Homo sapiens: one gene and its partner. The protein of the gene in region 1 purifies or fractionates together with the protein of each later gene. This does not show direct contact. Each region holds a gene or a part of one and is shown on either strand. Other genes may lie near its edges.

What was found. The genes of interacting proteins can lie anywhere in the genome.
Region 2: the proteins of NOL4 (region 1) and ZMYM6 purify together in Homo sapiens (affinity purification with mass spectrometry; one large-scale study listed by BioGRID and IntAct). This does not show direct contact.

Annotation. Positions count from the first base shown.
Region 1 is NC_000018.10:34,018,671-34,022,638, forward strand, and holds part of NOL4 (nucleolar protein 4), read right to left. Parts: intron 932-3,968; coding exon 648-931; intron 1-647.
Region 2 is NC_000001.11:35,021,946-35,025,445, reverse strand, and holds part of ZMYM6 (zinc finger MYM-type protein 6), read left to right. Parts: intron 1-3,500. UniProt on the Homo sapiens protein: Plays a role in the regulation of cell morphology and cytoskeletal organization.

The sequences.
Region 1 (3,968 bases):
AGTCAGCTGGGAATGGGAGAGGGTTGTACTTTATTCTAATATTAATATAAAGAATCTAAACATTTAGATATGTCTGAAATATGTTTTTGTCTTTTGTATGATATAATTTATGATAAATCATTTCTTAAAATAATTAATCCACAAACTTCATCCAGGACCCTCACACTTAACAGTTATTTAGTGTCCACAAAGAAAATTACTGATCAAAGTCCCCAGGTCTCCAAAGCAAACTGAAGAATTTAATTGAAACTTTATCTTTACTTACACCTATCCATCTAGGAGAAACTAGATAGTGATCCTTTTATAGTAGAAAATTGTGTACCGAGACTGAAACTGTCACATCTGAGCTCAACAAATTCCCAGAGAGATTCATACAAATAGATTATATACATGAGAAACATTAACTCAAGTGATTCTCCGGATCTAAAAACACCCACAGCTTTGAGACACGATTCATTTTGCTATTATTCCTGAAATCATATGTTATAAACACACAATATGCTTGGTGATAAGTTTCTTGGTATCCTCTTATTGGATTTGTTTATAATATTTTTATTAACAATAATGTTTATCTGCTATATGCATAGGTATTTTTTGTGACCTTCATGACCAACTCAAAAATTCTGGAAATTGTAATGTGATCATACCTTGCTTCCATTTTCTCTCGCCTCTCGTTCCATCTTGAGGTCAGAAATTAGAAGATTCTTATACTTGTTTTTCCCATTACTGTTGTGATCATCTATTCTGTATTCCGAAGTTAGCTGCGCAGAGAGGGGACTGTCACTCAGGTTCAGTGGCTGTTCATCTTGCTCCAGCCCAGTTTTGCCATCACTGTTGGAGTCTCCCATCTCCCTGCTGTGTGTTCCCCCTGAAGCAATTGAACTGTGCCCCAGAGTCTCATTGCCATTAAAGCTCTCTGCAGCAGAATCATCTGTTGGAAAGGAAAAGTTATATTTTGATTTTAATTAATATGCTATTCAGAGTCTACTTCAACTAGCATTTATTGAGCTCCCATTATATGAATGGCATTTTACATACAATATGTAATTCATCCTCAGCAATAAGCTTGTAAAGCAGTTATTGTTATTTTTAATCTAGTAGGCACATGATAAGGTTTGAATGTTTTGTCCTCACTAAATCTCACATTAAAATGTGACCTCCAATGTCCATAGTGGGGTCTAGTGGCAGGTGTTTGGGTCATGAGGGTGGATTTTTCATGAATGGCTTGGTGCCATCCCCATGGTAATGAGTGAGTTCTTGCTCTGGGAGTTCATAGGAGAGCTAGTTGTTTAAAAAGAGCCTGGCACCTCTTCTCTCTCTCTCTTGCTCCCTCTCTCACCATGAGACAAACTGGCTCCCCTACATCTTCCACCATGATTATAAGCTTCCAGAAGCCCTCACCAGGAGTAGATGCTGGCACTATGCTTCATGTACAGTCTGCAGGGCTGTAACCCAAATAATCCTTTTTTCTTTATAAATTACCCAGTCTCAGGTATTCCTTTATAGCAACGCAAATGGGCTAACACAGCACATTTAGGCACAATAAGTGAAATAAAACAGGAAGAAGAAAACAGAATTGAGAGAACAGTTCAATCTCAAATGCAATCTCAAAGAAAAAAAAACAAAGAGAATTAAATAACTACCAATTATTTTGCAAATTGTTTTTGTTTTTCCAGTGAGAATATCTAGATTTGGTAAAAATTCTCTGATAAAAAGCATCATTTATCCTGCTGGTGGAATGTGCATCAGTATTAGCTGAATGACTGTTTAAGATGCATCTAAAGCATTAAAAGTCCTCATAAACTTTGTTCCAGTCATTACACTTCTGGGAGTTTAATACCTAAGAAGTTTAATCATTGTGTGTATCTCTTTGTAGGTAAACATTTATACCAGTGTTGTTCATAATAGCAAAAAATTAGAAATGACCTAAATTACCACAAATAGATTATTTAAATAAATGTTGAAATTGTTAGATTATTATGTAGTTATTCAATATTGCATTTTAAGATATGGGGATGTGAGTCATGAAGTACTAAACACAAAAATCTAGCTACAAAAGAGTGTGGTTGGTATGATCCCAATTTTGTTAAAAAAAAACACATAGACAAAGATTACATGAAATAACATTCTATTTTTCTTAATTTTATCTTATATGATAAAAATTTGCTACTGATTTTTAAAAATTATGATGGAAAAGGTATTAAATTGTTTCATTTAGTTAAAAGCTAGTAGTGAAATCATATAAATATGGCTGAGCAAAAGAAATATTATTCAATACTTGTGATTTTTAATTTTCTGAATGTTATCAAGTATGTTTTTTTGAGGGATGTAATGAAATAGTTAATGTTTTCTAATCAATTACATTCATGGGAATTATATTCAAATTCTGAAAGAGTGATATAACTCACATGTTCCTTCATTTATTCACTAACATTTGTTAAGTGCTTACTCTGACCAATATGGGGTTAAGTATTTGGCCTGTAAAGACTCTGTCTTCAACAAGGTCACAGATAATTAAGAGAGACAGAAAAACAAACATGCTATTAAAATGCAGAGCAAGAAGGCTGTGATCTAATACAAGGGATAAAGACATCATAGAAGGCTTCCTAAAGAAGGTGATATGAGTTGAATTCTCAAAGGTGAGTGAGCCTTAACCAGGTGGAGAAGTTGGGGAAGAGCATTCTCTATAGAGGGATCAGCACGTGCAAAGTCACAGAGGTCAGCATATGCAGGGCAAGTGAGAAGTAAGAGTAGTCTGGAGTGCAAGAAAAGAGAATGGGAAAAGATAAACAGAAGAAAAAAAGAGAATACCAAGAAAAGCATTTTGTTTATCAAAGAACTTGGATTTTATTCTGGGAGCAAATAACAGTTTTAATTTATTGTGGGAAGTGACATGGAAAAAGTTATATTTCAAATAGACTATTCTGACTCTGATGAGGAGAATGGTATGAAGGGGCAAAATGGAAGTTGGGGAGACCAGTTAAGAGATTTAGAAGTCATCTAATTTGGCATATTTAAAAGCTCAAACTTCTGAAGCAGTGGCAATGCAGAAAAAGAGGAGACAATTAGAAAAATCGTGAGAATAGAACTGGTACGACTAGTAGTAATGGAATAGGCAAGAGTCTAAGATGAAGCCAGATCTGTAGTAAAAAATTAAAAAACAGGCTGGGCGCGGTGGCTCATGCACTTTGGGAGGCCGAGGTGGGTGGATCACCTGAGGTCAGGAGTTTGAGACCAGCCTGGCCAACATGGTGAAACCCCCGTCTCTACTTAAAATACAAAAATTCGCCGGGCATGGTGGCATGTGCCTGTAATCTCAGCTACTCGGGAGGCTGAGGCAGGAGAATCGCTTGAACCTGGGAGGCAGAGGTTGCAGTGAGCTGAAATCGCGCCATTGCACTCCAGCCTGGGCAACAAGAGCGAAACTGCATCTCAAAAAAAATAAATAAATAAATAAAATAAAATAAAAAATATAAAAACAAAGCACATTAGGTTTAAGTTTAATTTGTAATGAAATAATATTATTTCACGCCTGGCCTGAAATAATATTTTTAAACAGTTTTCTAAGACTACCCTGTGAAAAATGTTAAAATATGTTCAAATGGCAAAATTCTAGTAAATTACTTTTTATGTACCCATCAAAGAAAGAATTGATGTGGAAAGAAAAAATACATAGGAAAATTTAGGAAACTGGCCATAAATAATATGACATTTTTTATTACATGGTACTTTCCATAGGTATTAATCCAGGGATTCAAAATATTATTTTAACATGAAATGTCTAGGGTTTCTGAAATGCAGAATTAAGGGGATGACTTATATAAGTAATTTAGATAAATGTGTGCATGTTCTTTTTATGCCAATTCAAATTCTTACGCTAAATTATGAAGATGATTTTTATTACTTTATTATTTCCCACAAAAGTCCAAAGAAGAGCACAATGAAAATATTCAACTCCAATTTTTAAT
Region 2 (3,500 bases), on another chromosome or scaffold:
GCCCAGGCTGAAGTGCAGTGGCGCCATCTCGGTTCACTGCAACCTCCACCTCCTGGGTTCACGCAGTTCTCCTGCCTCAGCCTGCCGAGTAGCTGGGATTACAGGTGCCCACCACCACACCTGGCTAATTTTTGTATTTTTAATAGAGACGGGGTTTCACCATGTTGGCCGGCTGGTCTCGAACTCTACCTGCCTCGGCCTCCCAAAGTGCTGGGGTTACAGGCGTGAGCCACCGTGCCTGGCCTGTGCCACCTTTTGTGCAAATACAAAATCAAGGCCATGAGTGGTGGCTCATACCTGTAATCCCAGCACTTTGGGAGGCCGAGGTAGGTGGCTCACTTGAGGTCAGGAGTTCAAGACCAGCCTGGCCAACACGGTGAAACCACAACTCTACTAAAAATACAAAAAAATTAGCCAGGCTTCGTGGCACATGCCTGTGATCTCAGCTACTGGGGAGGCTGAGGCAGGAGAATCACTTGAACCCAGGAGGCGGAGGCTGCAGTGAACAGAGATTGCTCCACTGCACTCCAGCCTGGGCAACAGAGCAATATTCCATCTGAAAAAAAAAAAATACAAAATCACAGTCTTAGGTAAGTGCTTTAAAATTGTGTGAGGTGCATTGGGAGCATAGGGGAAGGAGCCCTAAATCTATATGGGAAGGAGAGGAAGGTTTCACATAGCAGGTAGCAATTGTATTATAAAAATTGACTAAGAGTTTCAGACAGAGAAAATATAGCAGAGAAAATAGCCACGTCATGGAGGGGTGAGAGAATGTGGTGTGTTTAATAGTTGAGTATCAACAATAAAGTGGGAAAAGATAATAGATTTAAAAATGGTTAGGTAGGATTGATCAAATTTAGAGATTGTTTATGGGTGTGAAGGTCAAAGAGGAGTCCAAGGATACTTACAGGTTTTGGGGTTTATGGTGATACCATTTACTGAGGGGTTAGAACAGGATTTTGGAGGAAGTACTAAGTGCAGTTTGAGGTCTGTTGTGTTTAAAGGGCTTGTGGGACATTCAAGTGGTAAACTGCACAAGGAGGCATTTGCACATAAAAATCTGGGATTTGAGATTAGAAAGTTATCTACTTGGAGATGTAGGGCTTCCAGATAAAATACAGGATGCCAGGTTAAATTTGACTATCAAATAAACAATGGTGATTTTTACTATAAGTGTATTGCTTGCAATACTTGGAACATAATTATTCTAAAATAGCACTATTTCAGCTATAGCTAAAAAGAAGGTTTCCTTTTCCTGTAAGATAGCAGGACAGTTTGCTGAGCAATTTGTAGGTAAGGTGGAGGGGGCTGAGGGATGTTGAGGGAGTTCTTAGTTACTTGTTTTTACCTGGTGCAATTGAAACATCAATGAGCAGGAAAGATGTGGAGTTGGGACTCGTGAGCTATGAAGGTTTAGAAAAATTACTTTGTGAGGTAAAAGAAACTGGTCAGGGAAATATAACAGAAATACTAGAAAAATTTTAGAAATTGAGTTGATAAGGCAAAGAAATTTTTATTGAATCTGGCCGGGCGCGGTGGCTCATGCCTATAATCCCAGCACTTTGGGAGGCCGAGACGGGCAGATCACGAGGTCAGGAGATCGAGACCATCCTGGCTAACACGGTGAAACCCCGTCTCTACTAAAAATACAAAAAAATTAGCCAGGCATGGTGGTGGGCGCCTGTAGTCCCAGCTACTCCGGAGGCTGAGGCAGGAGAATGTCGTGAACCTGGGAGGCGGAGCTTGTAGTGAGCCGAGATCGTCCACTGCATTCCAGCATGGGTGACAGAGCGAGATTCTGTCTCCAAAAAAAAAAAAAAAATTTTATTGAATCTTAAACACTCATTTTGGTAATTTGAAGATGTATATAATATTTTTAATGTCCTCTTCATTTTGCAAGTGTCAATAAATATTGTTATTTAAGTATAATGTTTAAGAACATGCACTTTGGATTGAATAGACTTAGATTCCTTCATTTAGCAAGTATTTATTAAATGCCAGTTATGAAACTAATAAATAAGTATGAGAACTAGCATTTTGGCCAGGTGCAGTGGCTCACGCCTGTACTCCCAGCACTCTGGGAGGCCAAGGCGGGCAGATCACCTGAGGTCAGGAGTTCGAGACCAGCCTGACCAACATGGAGAAACCCCGTCTCTACTAAAAATACAAAATTAGCCAGGCGTGGTGGCGCATGCCTGTAATCCCAGCTACTGGGGAGGCCGAGGGAGGAGAATCGATTGAACCCTGGAGGTGGAGGTTGTGGTGAGCTGAGATCCGCCATTGCACTCCAGCCTGGGCAACAAGAGCGAAACTCCATCTCAAAAGAAAAAAAAAAAGAACTAGCATTTTGTGTACATATCGTGCTTGCTTTTGACTAACTGTAAGATGTCATTCTGTATACCTTATTTATATTAAGTCATTTGCCCCCTCCCTCCCCGTTGGCCCTATGGGTTAGGTAATATTATCTTTATTTTACAGATAAAGAAATTGAAACTAAGAAAGATTAAATAGCTTGTTTAGGAGTCAAGATCATATCTGTTTCTGTCTGCTGTTAGAACCTATAGTCATTACTGTTATGTTGACTGTGTTGGGCGATTGGGTATACAGGGGTGAGAAAAACAGGTATTGTCCATAATGGATGTGATCTTTTTAGTCTAATGTGTGTGTAGGGGGAAGGATGAATGTTAAGCATTAATCAAATTATCCAAATAAGCAATGAAATGATTTACTATGGTAACTGCTGTGAGAGAAAGGAGATGGGAGAGACTACTGCAACAGGGGAACTTAATTTCAGTTGGACCAGAGTTTGAATTCATTGTAGTAATTACTTTATATTTTCACATCTATGACAGTGCTATCTTGGGTTTTAGAACAGAGAGACTGGCTGGGTGCGGTGGCTCATGCCTGTAATCCCAGCACTTTGGGAGGTGGAGGTGGGTGGGTCACCTGAGGTCAGGAGTTCAAGACCAGCCTGACCAACATGGTGAAACTCTGTCTCTACTAAAAATACAAAAATTAGCTGGGCATGGTGGTGAGTGCCTGTAATCCCAGCTACCCAGGAGGCTGAGGATCACTTGAACCCGGGAGGGAGAGGTTGCAGTGAGCCGAGATGGCACCATTGCACTCCAGCCTGGGCTACAGAGCGAGACTCCGTCTCAAAAAGAAAAAAAAAACAAAACAGAGAGACTGGGTTTGATTCCCATCTGTGCACGTAGTCTCTTTGTGACCTTGGGCAAGTTGCTGAACATCTCTTAGCTTCACTTTCCTCATCTATAAAGAAGGCATATCTTATAGAGAGCACCTCTTTGGGTGCTCATAATACATATCATGGGAAGTGGTGAATTAATGCAATGGTTCCTAGTTTTTGGCATTTAATAGTCTAAAGAAATTTCTAAAGTAACTTTGGAACTAACATAGCTACTCATTTATTTTGCTATGTGTGGAGAGATTAAAAATACAACTGCCATTTATTACCATCATTGATTCAGAAAAGTAAGACT